4 linked regions of the Homo sapiens genome follow. The protein of the gene in region 1 interacts with the protein of each later gene in a pairwise test. Each region holds a gene or a part of one and is shown in the gene's direction. Other genes may lie near its edges.

Region 1 (3,500 bases):
GGTCCTGATGTGGGAGGATGCCCGGAGGCCAGTTTAGCAGGCCAGTGGAGGGAGATCAGATCTGGGAGATATTAGGGTGGGACCAGGCCTCTAGGAACATTGTGGGCAGGGAGGCTGTCTGAGCAGAGGGAAGTAAAGCTGGTGGCGCTACTGCTGTCCCTCTGGACCTGGCCAAGCTGAGGGCTCTCTCCTTTGATTTCCAGCTTCAACTCAGTTTTCTCAGTAAGCAGACTCCACAGGCATGTAGGCGCCCCGTGCCATTTTTCTTTTAATAAGAAGCAGCTGTGCCGGGGATGCTGGCGTTTCCAGCTGCGTTTTTATTTGGCCTTTGGTGATGTGTCCCTCCAGGGATATGTGGATGAGCCGCGGGGGCACTGCCTGTGCCTCAGTGGGTGCTGCACCAGTGCACATCGGATGCCCGTTGGCTCCTGTCCCTGACAGATGGAGGGGCACGTGATGTGTTCCTTGGGCTGGTTTGTCCCTTTAACAGATCTTATTAGTTTAGAGCCACTTGGAAATGACATCTTCTGTTTCCAGTGACTTTCCTTTTGGGCAAAGACAAATTGCATCTTGAAAAGGCCATACATGGCCGGGCATGGTGACTCACACCTGTAATCCCAGCATTTTGGGAGGCCGAGGCAGGCAGATCACAAGGTTGGGAGTTTGAGACCAGCCTGGCCAACATAGTGAATCCCGATCTCTACTAAAAATACAAAAATTAGCCAGGTGTGGTGGCGCATGCCTTTAGTCCCAGCTATTTGGGAGGCTGAGGCAGGAGAATCACTTGAACCCAGGAGGAGGAACTTGCAGTAAGCGGAGATCACGCCATTGCACTCCAGCCTGGGGGACAGAGTGAGACTCCATCTCAAAAAAAAAAAAAAAAGGAAAAAAGGAAAGGCCATGCAAGGCTCGGTTAGGGTGGTCTGCAGTGCTGGGCCTGCTGGAATTGGTACAGTCCAGAGGGATCTGTGGGAATATGGAAGGCTTGGTTCTGCCACACACCAAAAAAGTGACCTCACTTCTCTGGGCCTCAGTTTCCTCATCTGGAAAATGGGAACATGGTGGTCTCTGCCTACTGGGAGTGGACTGAGAATCACGTAGCAAATTGTTGTGAAACAGGCAGCATTTGTGATCTCGTTGGTTGGCTTTTGTCTCCTTTTATCTGGGATCAGGACTCTGATGACAGGTGTACGTTTCTTTTCTCTTGCTCTGTCCCCCAGACTGGAGTACAGTGGCGTAATCATGGCTCACTGCAGCCTCCAACTCCTGGGTTCAGGTGGTCCTCTCACCTGAGTCTCCTGAGTAGCTGGGACTATAGGCATGAGCCACCACACCTGGCTAATTACAAAAAAATTTTTTTGGCAGGGAGCGATGGCTCACACTTGTATTCCCAGCACTTGGGGAGGCCGAGGCGGGCGGATCACGGGGTCAAGAGATTGAGACCATCCTGGCCAACATGGTGAAACCCTGTCTCTACTAAAAATCCAAAAATTAGGTGGGTGTGGTGGCTCTCACCTGTAGTCCCAGCTGCTCGGGAGGCTGAGGCAGGAGAATCGCTTGAACCTGGGAGGCGGAGGTTGCAGTGAGCCGAGATCGTGCCACTGCACTCCAGCCTGGGCGACAGAGCGAGACTCTGCCTCAAAAAAAAAAAATTTTTTTTTTTTTAGAGACAGGGTCTTACTTTGTTGCTCAGTTTGGTGTCAAACTCCTGGGCCCAAGCGATCCTCCTGCCTTGGCTTCCCAAAGTGGTGGAATTACAGGTGTGAGCCGCCGAACCCGGCCTTAGTTTCTTTTTCCTTAAAGAGAAGGAACTCATCATTACTCTGTTGATATAAATGGAGTGCCTATCAGTGCAGGCAATGTTCTTGCTCTGGGGATACAGCCAGGACCAGGACATGCAGGCACGCCCTGTTCCCCAGATCCTGAAATATCGACCAGAAGTTGTTCCTGGTTCCTTTCTAAGTGGGAATCATGGCTGCAAACAAGTAATTGGCCGTGAGAGTTATTTACACACATTTTGTGTACGGTGATGAGAAATGGGAGAAAAAATGCCCAGCATCGGATCACCAGAGGTCAGGAGTTCGAGACCAGCCTGGCCAACATGGTGAACCCTCATCTCTACTAAAAATACAAAAATTAGCCGGGCGTGGTGGCAGGCGCCTGTAATCCCAGCTATTCGGGAGGCTGAGGCGGAGAATCGCTTGAACCTGGGGGACGGAGGTTGCGGTAAGCCGAGATTGCGCCGCTGCACTCCAGCCTGGGCAACAGAGCGAGACTCTGTCTCAAAACAAACAAACAAACAAAAACCAATGATAGGGGATTTGGCCAGATAAGCGTGTCCAGACAACCGACTATCAACTCGCTACTCAGAGGGATCTAGAAGAATCTTTAATGACCCAGAAAGCTGCACAAGACCTGTTAGGTACCAGATGAAATGGGCTGTGGGATCCTGTCTTGTTTAAAACGATTGTATTTGCTCAGTGAAAAGACCGGAAAGACATACTCTGCCCTAACCCCACATGTGAATCGTCTCCCCATGTGATTCTTGGTTTGTTTTTGCTGGTTTGGGGATTAGGTTTATAATCAGGAAGACAGATTTCTCCAAAGCTGCGCTCTAGGCTGTCCAAGTGCTTTTTCAGAGTTACTTATTGACGGATAACAGCCCTTGATAGGTTCATAACATTGAAATCCCCTGGTAATAACCTGGATTGTTTCTGGATGAGGGCGGAAGATGGCCTTGGGGACAGTTGTAGATTTAGAGAGGAGGTTTTCTTTTCTTTTCTTTTTCTTTTTTTGTTTTTTTTTGAGACGGGATCTCACTCTGTTGCCTAGGCTGAAATGCAGTGGCGTGATCACAGCTCACAGCAACCTCAACTTCCTGGGCTCAAGGGATCTTCCCACTTCAGCCTCCCAATTAGCTGGGACCACAGGTGTGCGCCACCACCCCCAGCTAATTTTAAGAAATTTTTTGTAGAGGTGGGGTCTCATTATTTTTTGCCCAGGCTAGTCTCAAACCCCTGGGCTCAAGTGATTCTCCTGCCTCGGCTTCCCAAAGTGCTGGGATTACAGGCAAGAGCCACGGCACCCGGCCTAGGTTAGATTTAGAGTTTTCAGAGTTGGCTTAGGCGGTAGAGGCTGGCCTTTGAATGGAACCCTGTCTCGCTGTCGCTCTCAGCGTTTATATTTGGCTCAGAGCCACATCTGCCAAACTTCTGCCCGATTTGAATGAAAGTGCTGAAATTATAGGCCCCTCGGCTGCTGAAAAAAAGTGAGAACATCATGTAAACCGTAATTTACTGGGATTGCCAACTACAAGCTGTAATTAAGCCCTTATTGTGTTAAAGCTTTGGAAAAATCCAAGCCAATAATGAGATATTTATAGGGCATTAGCTACAATCTGAATAAAGGGAAAATGTGGCCCTGCGTCTGAAGCAGGACTGCAAAGAGAGGAAAGACGCCTGCTTCCGGGTGCGTTTTGGGTTTCTGTGAATATTGGTAAC
Region 2 (4,268 bases), on another chromosome or scaffold:
TCGTTGTAAGGATTAAATTAGAAATCTATGTACGGTGCCTCATGACAATGAATACTTCATAAATGTTAGCTGCTATTATGAGATAGCAACATGTAGTTTGTTACTAAATTTCCAAGAGGAACATACTTGACTTGACCTCCAATACTATCCTGTGGTTCTTTAAAAGTTTTCTTATTCATTGATAGGCCGGGCGCGGTGGCTCACTCCTGTAATCCCCAACACTTTTGAAGGCGGATTGCTTGAGGCTAGGAGTTCCAGATCAGCCTGGCCAACATGGTGAAACCCCATCTCTACTAAAAATACCAAAATTAGCCGGGGGTGGTGGCGGGCGCCTGTAATCTCAGCTACTCAGGAGGCTGAGGCAGGAGAATCGCGGGAGCCAGGGAGGTAGAGGTTGCATTGAGCCGAGATCGAACCACTGCACTTCAACCTGGGCGACAGAGCAAGACTCTGTATACACTAGAAAAAAAAAAAAAAAAAAGAATTTGTTGTTAGACAAAATTTAGTTTATTAACTAATTTAGTGATTAACAAAAGTTCTTCTAAGCAGAATTATTTGATAGCTACTATCTCCCTTTTCTCTTTGGCTGCCAGGAAGCTGAGAGCCAAGTTGTTAGTTTAACAAAAGCAAGTAGGCACCTGACAGTTTCTCGCCTCTGACTTCATCGTGATGATTTCTCTGACTCGGATTTTTTTTATATCTGTAAAATTAAACTGCTGTCAGTGTTTGGTTTAGAGAGCTGTGCCGTTTCACAAGTGTAAAAGATCTTGGAGAGAAGTTAGTGTCCTGATTCACTTGGATCTAGGTAGCCAGTTGGTAACAGCCTCCGCCTCTGGCTCCTCCCCTTCTCCCTGCCGCGTCCCTCCTCCCCGCCCCTTCGCCTCTGGCCCCGCCCCTTCTCCCTGCCGCTTCCCTCCTCCACGCCCGCTCGCCTCTGACTCCTCCCCTTCTCCCTGACGCGTCCCTCTTCCTGTCTCTTCGCCTCTGGCTCCTCCCCTTTCTCCTGCCATGTTTCTTCTCCCCGCCCCCTCGCCTCTGGCTCCTCCCCCTTTTCCCTATCGCGTTCCTCCTTTGCAGCCCCCATCCCCCTCCTCTGGCTCCTCTTCTTCCCTACCGCGATCCTCCTTCCAGACCCCGGCCCCCAGCCCGCCTCTAGCTCCTTCCCTTATTTCCTGCCGCGCTCCTCCTTCCCGACACCGCCCCTCCGCCTCTGGCTACTCCTCTTCTCTCCTGCCGCACTCCTCCTTCCCGGCCCCACCTCCCCGCCTCTGGCTCATCCCCTTCTCTTCTGCCGCCCTCCTCCTTCCCGGCCCCGCCCCCAGTCTTTGGCTCCTCCCCCTACCCTGCCGCGCTCCTCCTTCCCGGCCCCTCCCCGCTGCCCTCTTCTGGCTCCTCCCCCCCACCCGCCTCTGGCTCCTCTCCTTCCCACCCCTGCCGTGCTCCGGCAGGAAGAGGTGGTGCCAGGGCCGTTGCTAGGATACGACCAACAGCTGAGAACGCGGCGAGTATGGAAGCTGCGTCTTAGGAGCCTGGGAAAGCACTTCGACGAGAATAGTTTGGTTTCGTACACAGGTAGGAGAACAGATTTTGACTGCGGCCTCCTGGTCCGACGCTTAGATCCAGCCTAGAGCCGGTGACAGCCGCGCTGGACTCTGGGTTCTGTGTGCTGGGCAGTGATTCCCACCTGAGCGCCTGGGGCTGCCTAGTCGGTCAGGAATGTTCCGACTTTACTTTAAAAACCGTGCGAAGCATCTCATCTTTCTCGGCTCCTTTTTTGGCTTCCCCTCTCTGATTTGGGACTTGAACCAGCAGCATCAAGCTAGGAGGTACACCTCACCTCACACCCTGGGTGCTTGTCACGGTAATTGCATAGAAGATGTGTGTATAACCCACACCTGGCACTAGAGACTCTTAGCCTTCCGTGGCCACCATTCTCATATTAAGTCGAGAGATTTTAGACTTTCCTCACCTGGCACTCTCACTCCTTCCTCTCCACCCTTGGTCTTTGCCTCTTAACAAACCTAAAAATTCAACAGATCTATTTGGTAGAAGGCAATACTGGATCCCTGCCTCACTAATTATACTACATTCTAAATGTGTTAAGCTTTAAATGGTAGGGAATGAAATGTAGGTGAAAAGGGAGACTTTTTTGTATGCAAACATGATAGAGGTTGCTTTTTAAACAATAAGATTTAAACATTTTCATTTGAATAGATAATACATAAAAAAATAGTTCGAATAGTAAAAAGAATGAAGAGTGAAAATCCTCCATCTACCCATTTCTCCCCATCTCCAGGCCACCTTCCACAGGTGTTTTAGACATACGCAAATATGTAGTTACACCTGTAACATTGTGCATACTCTTCTGTGATTGGCTTTTACACTTAAGACTGTGTGTCCAGTTGTTTTCTATCAATATTTACAGATCTGTCTCATTTATGCATTTATGGATGAATTTATGTATTTATGTTTCATTGTGAGAAGGTGTTTCGAAGCATGTCAGGAAATTTGGAAACTCTCATAAGCAAAAAGATTGATAAATGTCACTACCTAACAATCTAAAACTTTTATATAGTAAGAGAAAAACAACATCAAACATACAATGGGAAATATAAGGGCAACACACAACAAAGGGATATTTAATTATTAGGACTCATAAAACAATATGAGGATGTAAGGAAACAGTCAAGGGGAACTTCTTGGGGCTATAATAGAAAACAGTTTGATGGAATTTAACAAAATTAAGATCTGTATGCCCTTTGACTTGTCCATTCTAATTCTGGGAACTCATTTTCAGTATACTTACACATATATACAGAGATAGATGTATAAAATGTTTGTTGCAGCACTATTTTTAATAGTAAAAAACTAGAGGGGTCTGCATGGCGGGGCCTCGGAGCCAAGACGAGGTTGAGTAGACTCGTTTTGAATTTTCTCCCCTCTGCTCCGGCGGACTTCCCATGTCGCCTTGTGGGGCTATCGGCGGCGGCAGGACTGGGGGAGTCAGAGGTCTGGCAGCGCTGTCTGCGCAGACCTACCGGACGCTACCTCCCAACCCCCCTTTCTTCCTCCTGCCTCCTCCTCCTCCCGTCACCTCCTGACCCGCCGGAGCTCCGAGCAACTGCCGGCCTCCGCCCCCAGCCGCAGCCGGTCACTGGCGGCGCCTTCCGCGCCAAGCTTGGGGGCCTTTTCGGGGTCCTACATGGCACGGCTTCCGACCCCCGGCCCGGGACGGGGCTCGCAGGCCCCAGAGGGGCAGGCTGGAGAAGGAGGAGGTTAGGTGTCTTCAGGAGGGTTGCTGAGCCCAAGGACGCGCCATCGCCGCGGAGAAGGAGCCGGACCCCTTGGGCGGAGCGCCCAATGTGTGGTCCCTCACGCCGTCCCGCACCTTGCTTTTTAGGGTTCTTTTTCCGCTTTCTGAGCCCTTTTATACCTTACGTTTAGAAGGGGAAAATCATCCTCCCACACCTTCTCCCCGACTTTTTGCCTTTTTTGTCTTGAAGTTACCCAAAGGTCTGTGTATTGTTCTCAGTGGTCCCAAGAATTACTCGAATATAGTTGTTTTTCTGAGGGAGGATGGATGGAGATAACTATCCTGATCCCAGTGTCACTTTTTAAGGCATTCGCTTCAAGAGACAAGCAGTTTAGAATCAGGCAGAACTGGATTGCAAAATTTATGGGCAGACCGGTATGTGTGAAGGTGAAGACAAAGCTTTCCTTTTTTACGTTGTTTAAAGATGTCCTACTGTAAGGTAGACGCCTAATATTTAAATGAACGCCTAATATTTAAATAGAGAATGAGAAGAGATTTAAACAATTGGAAGAAAAAAATAATTTTTATTAGAAAGCAATGACAATAAAAGTAGGACTCTTTTCAGTTTACTCACCTTTGTAACTCCGAATCCGGGCCCTGGAACCAGAATTCCTGGGTTCAAATCCTGCCTCTGCTACTTGATTAACCTTTTTGTGCCACACTTTTATCAACTGTAAGAATTAACTGCGCCATCGGAAGCACTCAGTATATGTTAATTATTATCATCAAATAGTTACTAATTCCAGTTTAACTAGAAGCTTTGCCAGCGTGAATAGATAAGGGAGAATAGCCACATTGAGTGGAGGAATAAAATTAGAAAACCTCTGTGCTGAAGTCCCAGGAGATCACTTATTAGGCTTGAGCTTGCTAATGGAAGTGGTGATCGTTTAACCATGTGGTTATTGTAGTGGTGAAGATTTACACATTAAATAAGTCTTGGGCATCTGAAGCTTGA
Region 3 (4,128 bases), on another chromosome or scaffold:
GCCAGGTGCAGACTGAGTCTAGGTGGTTTCCCTGGAGAAAAAAAGCGGGGGGCCCTGGAGAACAGGGGTAAGAGACTGAAGAACAATAAAGAGGTCACGGGGTACGTTCCCTTTCTGACATCCATCGCATCCTGAGCCCAAGGTCACAGGAGAGGGTCGCATACTGCAGATGGAGCTGAGGGAACGGGGGGAGAGGCAGGCGGGCCCTGAAGGTGCAAGGTCGTGTGGGCCTCGGGACAAGTCAGGGTAGAGGGACCTGGCTCCCACGACCCTCCCTCTCCGCAGCCCCGTGGAGGCCGCACCCCAGAGCCTCCAGCATCATCCCTGGGCCCCTCTGCGCTCCAGCCCTCGTGTCTAAGCTCCCCGGAGGCGTTTTCTCTCCGCTCTCAGCCTCTGCTCCCGCGCTTGTGGCTGTCCCTGGCCCTGTCTCTCTCAGACTGTCCCTGGGCATATGTGTCTGTCTCACGATTCCTGCCTCTGTTTTGTCTCATCCCTCCCTTGCTCTCCACCGCAGTCCTGGTTGCCGTCCATGTCTCATCCCGACCCCTTCTGTCTCCATGCCTCCCTCACTCTCTTTCTCGTCCCCCTGTCTCCCTGTCTCCTCTTGTCTCTCTCTTAACCTCATCTCCTGTCTCTGCCCTGTCCCCGCTCCATCCTGTCTCTCTCTTACCCTCATCTCCTGTCTCTGCCCTGTCCCCGCTCCATCCTGTCTTTCGCTGTGTATGTTCCGTCCTTGTCTCCCTCTGTGTACCTGTATCTCTTGTCCCTGTCTCCATCACTGTTTCTGCCCCTTTCTCTCCCGGTCTCTGTTTCCTCTGTCTATCCACGTCCCTTCCCTGTCCCCATCCCAGGCTCCGTCTCTTCCCGGTCTCCATCCCCCTTCCTGGGCCGCCTCCGCAGTCTCCGCCGGGATGGGACCTCGCTGGGGGCGGGGCTGAGGGGCCAGATCGGAATAACTCGGTTATCAGAGCGAATTGAATTAACTTCTTCACACGAGCGCCGCCAGGCCTGCCTCCCCTCCCTTCCGCGGGGCCGCAGGTGGGGAGGCCCGGGAAAAGGGTCGGGACCCTCTGGCCTCGGACGCTGTGTAGAGACCGAAGGTCTGGTCCGGATTGGGGCAGGATAGGGACTCCGGGGATAGGGTCCCGCGCATCCCAGCTCCACACCTCTGAGCCCTAAGACGGCGGCGGGGACCCTTCGGGGTGGGGGTCGGGGCGGCTTTGGGCGGTGTCTGGGCCTCCTAGGCCCCGCCCCTTCGGAGCTCGCCCCGCCCCGCCCCCCTCCGCGGGGTCCTGCGCGTTAAAAGGCGCGCGGGCCGGGCTGGCTGCACTTGCGTTGCACCCGGGCTGAGTGCGGCCGCGACGGGGCGGGCGGACTCTCGGGCGCTCAGAGCTGGCCTCGGGTCCTCGGAGCCTGGCGCTCGAACCTCCCTTCCGACCTCCACCCGGACCCCGACCCCGACCCGGCCTGGCCCGGCCCCCGCCCCCGCCCCCCGGGCCGATGGACTACTCCTACCTCAATTCGTACGACTCGTGCGTGGCGGCCATGGAGGCGTCCGCCTACGGCGACTTTGGCGCCTGCAGCCAGCCCGGCGGCTTCCAATACAGCCCCCTGCGGCCCGCTTTCCCCGCGGCAGGGCCGCCCTGCCCCGCGCTCGGCTCCTCCAACTGCGCACTTGGCGCCCTACGCGACCACCAGCCCGCGCCCTACTCGGCAGGTGAGCGCAGCCCCGGCCCAACCCTCCCTCCAATTCCTGCAGAATCCCTGGGCCCGCTCGCCAAGTGAATGCGACTGTCCCCCTCAGCCGCCCCCATTCCTGCCTTGGCCAGACCCTCCAATGCCCCGAGAGACCCCCAGAATACGAGGTTCTCCTCCGCAGGAATGAGCCTCACCCTCTCATCTCTCCTGTTCCTTTTTCTCGTTGCCAAATCTCTGTCTCGTGCCCTTCAGGTCAAGGAAATATATCCCCATCCAGCTCTGGGCCCCTTACCAGGCCTTCCCCTCACCACCTGCAAAGACTGACCACTAAACCTCTACAAGCGCTGGATCTTTGAAAAAGGCTCCCAGCCCAGCCCTATCACCACTTATCACCCCACCCCATCACCGCTGCCCCACGAGATGCATGACCCCCAGCAAGGACCTCTCCAGGCAGCTGAGCTGCCCAGACGGGAAGCTTCCTAGAGCTCGCGTGGCCATCAGGCCCCTCCTGCCCTGTCTTGGACCCACGCTGCCTGGGACCGAACCCTTCTGTAGCCACCAAAACCAGATCCCGTAGCCCGCAATAAAGGGGCCCGGGTTTTTAAGCCACTTGTATTTCCCCATTCCCCCAGACTCTCCCAGCTAGAGTTCTGTAGAACCCGGAAGCAGCTCCTGCATCCCCAAGACTTTAGATCCAAGTCCCTGTCCAAACCCTCAACCTCACTGAGCTTCTCAGTCATCTCAGCCCTCTGATTAGAGTCCCAGCCTGCCCTATGTAATCTTATCGCCTTCCCTCCTGGGAAGACTGCCGGGGACCCAAGTAGAAGACTGGGGCCTAAGGGCCAGGCGCGGTGGCTCATGCCTGTAATCCCAGCACTTTGGGAGGCCAAGGCGGGTGGATCACTTGAGGTCAAGAGTTCAAGACCAGCCTAACCAACATGGTGAAACCCCATCTCCATTAAAAATACAAAAAAAAAAAAAAATTAGCTGGGCATGGTGGCCCACGCCTGTAATCCCAGCTACTTGGGAGTCTGAGGCAGGAGAATCGCTTGAACCTGGGAGGCAGAGGTTGCAGTGAGCTGAGACTGTGCCATTGCATTCCAGCCTGGGTGACAGAATGAGACTCGGTCTCAAAAAAAAAAGAAGAAGAAGAAGAAGAAGACTGGGCCCTAGGCTGGGGTTTGGGGAAGAGATACGAGAAATGAGAACCTGGATTTGGAGAAATGAGGCCCAGGGTGGGGAGATTGGGTACCCTGAGCCAGATGAGGGTAGGGATTGGGAAGAGGGGAGACAGCCTCCAGAGATACAGGGTTTTGAGACCAGAGAGATGGGGATAAGGTACAGAGAGATGGGAGCAGAGATGGAAGCACTGGAAATCCTAGGAGAAATGGGGACTCAGGGTTGGGGAGATAGAGATAAGTATCAGGCGATGGGGACCAAAGAAGATTAGAAATAGAGATGACGAAGATAAGAATACAAATGGGGTGCTGGAGACAAGAATCAGGGGAGATGGAGGCCTGGATGGGACAAAGATGAGATTGGAGACCCCTGGTGAATATGAAGACTTAAACCAGGGTTACAGACAGGGAAGGGAAGTACTGTCAGAAACACTACCTATGGGGCAGTGGAGACTGGGATGGGTATAGGAAGAGAGTTGGGGGGCAGTGTTGGCTTTGGAGGAGATGGGACATGGAGAAGGTGCCTGGGGAGGAAGAAGGAGGGCAAAGAGAAGATGGAGGAAGTCTTCTCAATGGGCGCAAAGAGAAGATGGAGGAAGTCTTCTCAATGGGCACAAAGAGAAGAGTGGCTGAGAAATGGAAAGTTGAAGAGAGATTCAAATGGAGGAAGATTAGGAAGAGGAGAGGGGGACATCTAGGGGAGAATGGGGGTCAGGGGAGTGGGGCAGAATTGAAGAAATGAGGCTTGGGAAGGGGAGAGGTGGATGGGTGGAGGGAGCCAAATCTGTATACAGCTGAGAGCCGGTGGGAAGGCTGGTGGTAGGGCTGAAAGGAGGGCCGGTGGGAGGGTCTCTGTTGCAGAGCCTTGGCCCAGAACTGGTTAGTGGGAAGACTGGCAATGCTGATGAGACCTGACAGACATCCAGGGCCAGGGTAGACAGAGGGGACAGACGGGCTGAGAGACAGACAGGAGGGAAGGGTCGGAGGCACGGTTGAATGGGGGTGCAGGGGGAGATGGAGGGAACAGGGCTTGGGAGGAGGGCGACGACGGGGGTGGGGTGGGGGAGGGAGTGTCTTGGCTGGAGTATTGGATTATGCTTTCCCCTTGGCCGCTCTTGGGGCTCAGGTCTCCCTGATCTCCCTCCGCCTTTATCCCGCCGGCTCCATTGAGTAATAGGGAGGACGCTCGGCCCCAGGCTGCCGGGACCAAGACGAGGGATCAGGCCAGGGACGGGGGAGGCGTGTGATTCCC
Region 4 (3,500 bases), on another chromosome or scaffold:
GTGTGATGCCTACGTTACTGATTTTCCACTTGTGAGTCTCTTCTTTTATTTAAAATACAGTGATATATTCTCACTTATTAAAGACTAAATTTTTTAAAACTTAAAGTTGATGGTAAATATAAAGGAAATATATATATTTATATATGTGTATATATTTATAGTTTAGTAACACTGATCATAATATTTACTAATTGCCAAAATACCTTAAGTTTATGAGATTTAGAAATGTCTAAAGTTCACTCAGGAAGGATGCCTCTAATTTCTTATATCCTAAACACGAGAGCCAATGTGAAGGAATAAAATGTGCTATAAATATGTCAAGAATAATTTCCTTTTAAACAGTTATAACTTATATTGGAAACAGTAGTTTTTAAGTCTTGTTAAGGTATGGTCATATGCTGGAATAATAGAAATCTAGTTCTGCTCTTTTCAAACATTTAGGTTTGATAGTTATTTTACGTTGGTCTAAAGAAGCCAGTAAATAGTACCCCTCTTTCCTACATGAGTGTGACAAACTGAGAAGCAAGCAAGGAGTAAGACAAGCAGAAACCCAAAATATCACTTTGATTACTGATAGAGGCTTTGTGGAGGATATTGCTTCATGTCAGAGTAAATGGTCTAGCACCAAACCCCAGAATTGAGTGGCCACCCCACACCTCCAGTCTCAGCAGTACGGAGCCCAGATAGGCTTCCTGAGGTACTGAGCAAGCTGGGGGCCTGTGGGCTTCTCACTGGAGCAGCAGAACCCTTACTCTTGGCCATTGGGTTGGCTCTAAAAGAAGAAAAAGGAAAAGGCTGTTTATTTATCCTTCTTAAATATTCTAATCATATAAATTTCCCTGCACCTTCCCAAAAGTGATGATTAAGAGGAGAGAATCCAGGAGTCAAACACTAATGGGGCTCTCTCTGCTTAAGAGGAAACTTGAGTAGCTCAAGAAGCATTTCTAGGAATCATTTGAAAGGAAGCTCTTTCAGAGCTCACTTTACTTTTTAGATGGCTTAGTACAGAATTGAGAATTCCTATTATAACCATAGATTGTTGTTTTCATTGTTTAGTCCTGGATAATTTTGGGATTACCAAAATTCACGAGAGGCCAGAATTCACGAGAGGATAGTATCAGTTAAGATGTCTTATGTACTAGATTATATTGTGGCTTTCATTGATTTCATTATTAACAGTCCCTAATTTTTTTTTTTACAGGATCTAGATATTGATCCAAAAGATGCAAATAAAGGCACACCTGAAGAAACTGGCAGCTACTTGGTATCAAAGGATCTTCCCAAGCATTGCCTCTATACCAGACTCAGTTCACTGCAAAAATTAAAGGTTACTACCTTTTCTGTTTATAGCTACTAATGGAAAACTTTATGAAACTGGAAACTTATTTTGGCATAGACCATAGATATGCTGCCTTATTATTAAAGTAGAGATAACCAGTCTACAGAAGGTCCTATCAGTGACCCTTTTTATATTCTGTTTCCGATGGTGACCAGAGGACTTTATGTGTGCTTACCCTCCAGAATGCTAAAAAATTAGTAACATTAGAGTATATTCTTTTTTCTTTTTTTAGAGACAGAGTCTTAACTCTGTCACCCAGGCTGGAGTGCAGTGGCATGAACATGACCTACTATAACCTCAAACTCCTCAGTGCATATGATCCTGCCACCTCAGCTTCCCAAGTATCTGAGTCTACAGGCACATGCCACTACACCCAGCTAATTTTTTAAAACTTTTTGTGGAGAAGGGATCTCACTATATTGCCCAGGCCAATCTCAAACTCCTGGCCTCAAGAATCCTCCCTTCTTGGTCTCCCAAAGCACTCGGAGTACAGGTGTGAGCTTCCACTCCCAGCTCCATATTCTACTTTTAAATATGTTCAGATTTTCAAGTAATCATTTCCTAGTTCTATGACTAGACATATAGCAAATTAGAATTTTTTTTCCATTTTTTTATTTCTAGTTGACTTACAAATGAGAAGCTAGTTCTGCACATTGAGTGTTCTAATGAAAGCTTTTAATTTGTTCACAACTACATGACCATAGAATGTATCAGCTAAAACTCAGGGAATGGAATGGGCATGATTGAGAATTACACACATAAACCTGTTGTCATCCTGTTCGGAGCTCATCTACTTAAAATCCTTTCTTCTCTTAAAAAGTTAGCCCATTATCTGATTCAGTTATATTTTCCACCTACGATTATGGATTACTATAATATTTTAAAAACAGCTTAAGCTTTTTTTATAAAACTGGTATAAAACCAGGTTTTTTTTTTTGTTTTGAGATGGTGTCTCTCTCTGTCGCCTAGGTTGGAATGCAGTGGCGCGATCTCAGCTCACTGCAACCTCCACCTCCCAGACTCAAGTGATTCTTGTGCCTCAGCCTCCCGAGTAGCCAGGACTACAGGCGCACACCACCATGCCCAGTTAATTTTTTGTATTTTTAGTAGAGACAGGTTTCACCACGTTGGCCAGACTGGTCTTGAACTCCTAACTTCAAGTGATCCATCTGCGTCATCCTCCCAAAGTGCTGGGATTATAGGCGTGAGCCACCACGCCGGGCCCAGATCATTTTTTAATTAAAAGTTAATACCCCATCTCTAATAATAGGGAAGGGTAAGTTTCCTAAGCTGCACTGCTTGGAAAATGTTTTCCCTGTTCATCTAGAGTGTAAGAAAGATCTCTTTGACTTTGACTACTAACAGTAGTAAGAACTAGAAATTCTAAATGGGTTGTAAGTATTGCATGAAGGAAAAGGAAGATAATGATAGCTGGCGTTTCTCAGTTTCAGGGAGATATAAAGGATGCCTTGAGGATTTGGAACCTGGGAAAGGAGAGTGAGTGGATTTTTGGGGGTGGGGGTGTGTATGTGTGAATATTTTCAGATTGATATATATTCACTGTTGATGCCAATAATAAACCAGATTTTTTTCCTTTTCAGGAACATCTAGTCTTCACAGTATGTTTATCATATCAGTACTCAGGATTGGAAGATACTGTAGAGGACAAGCAGGAAGTGAATGTTGGGAAACCTCTCATTGCTAAATTAGACATGCATCGAGGTTTGGGAAGGAAGACTTGCTTTCAAACTTGTCTTATGTCTAATGGTCCTTACCAGAGTTCTGCAGCCACCTCAGGAGGAGCAGGGCATTATCACTCATTGCAAGACCCATTCCATGGTGTTTACCATTCACATCCTGGTAATCCAAGTAATGTTACACCAGCAGATAGCTGTCATTGCAGCCGGACTCCAGATGCATTTATTTCAAGTTTCGCTCACCATGCTTCATGTCATTTTAGTAGAAGTAATGTGCCAGTAGAGACAACTGATGAAATACCATTTAGTTTCTCTGACAGGCTCAGAATTTCTGAAAAATGACCTCCTTGTTTTTGAAAGTTAGCATAATTTTAGATGCCTGTGAAATAGTACTGCACTTACATAAAGTGAGACATTGTGAAAAGGCAAATTTGTATATGTAGAGAAAGAATAGTAGTAACTGT

What was found.
Region 2: the proteins of DNM2 (region 1) and IQUB interact in binary tests that used the Homo sapiens proteins (3 or more experiments, as listed by UniProt).
Region 3: the proteins of DNM2 (region 1) and PHOX2A interact in binary tests that used the Homo sapiens proteins (3 or more experiments, as listed by UniProt).
Region 4: the proteins of DNM2 (region 1) and MALT1 interact in binary tests that used the Homo sapiens proteins (3 or more experiments, as listed by UniProt).

Annotation. Positions count from the first base shown.
Region 1 is NC_000019.10:10,724,579-10,728,078, forward strand, and holds part of DNM2 (dynamin-2), read left to right. Parts: intron 1-3,500. UniProt on the Homo sapiens protein: Catalyzes the hydrolysis of GTP and utilizes this energy to mediate vesicle scission at plasma membrane during endocytosis and filament remodeling at many actin structures during organization of the actin cytoskeleton.
Region 2 is NC_000007.14:123,531,796-123,536,063, reverse strand, and holds the start of IQUB (IQ motif and ubiquitin-like domain-containing protein), read left to right. Parts: upstream 1-1,468; 5' UTR 1,469-1,572; intron 1,573-2,870; exon of another isoform or gene 2,871-3,700; intron 3,701-4,268. UniProt on the Homo sapiens protein: Adapter protein that anchors the radial spoke 1 (RS1) complex to the A microtubule of outer doublet microtubules in axonemes. The triple radial spokes (RS1, RS2 and RS3) are required to modulate beating of the sperm flagellum.
Region 3 is NC_000011.10:72,241,377-72,245,504, reverse strand, and holds the start of PHOX2A (paired mesoderm homeobox protein 2A), read left to right. Parts: upstream 1-1,328; 5' UTR 1,329-1,500; coding exon 1,501-1,717; intron 1,718-4,128. UniProt on the Homo sapiens protein: May be involved in regulating the specificity of expression of the catecholamine biosynthetic genes. Acts as a transcription activator/factor. Could maintain the noradrenergic phenotype.
Region 4 is NC_000018.10:58,744,465-58,747,964, forward strand, and holds part of MALT1 (mucosa-associated lymphoid tissue lymphoma translocation protein 1), read left to right. Parts: coding exon 1-31; intron 32-1,201; coding exon 1,202-1,327; intron 1,328-2,940; coding exon 2,941-3,378; 3' UTR 3,379-3,500. UniProt on the Homo sapiens protein: Protease that enhances BCL10-induced activation: acts via formation of CBM complexes that channel adaptive and innate immune signaling downstream of CARD domain-containing proteins (CARD9, CARD11 and CARD14) to activate NF-kappa-B and MAP kinase p38 pathways which stimulate expression of genes encoding pro-inflammatory cytokines and chemokines.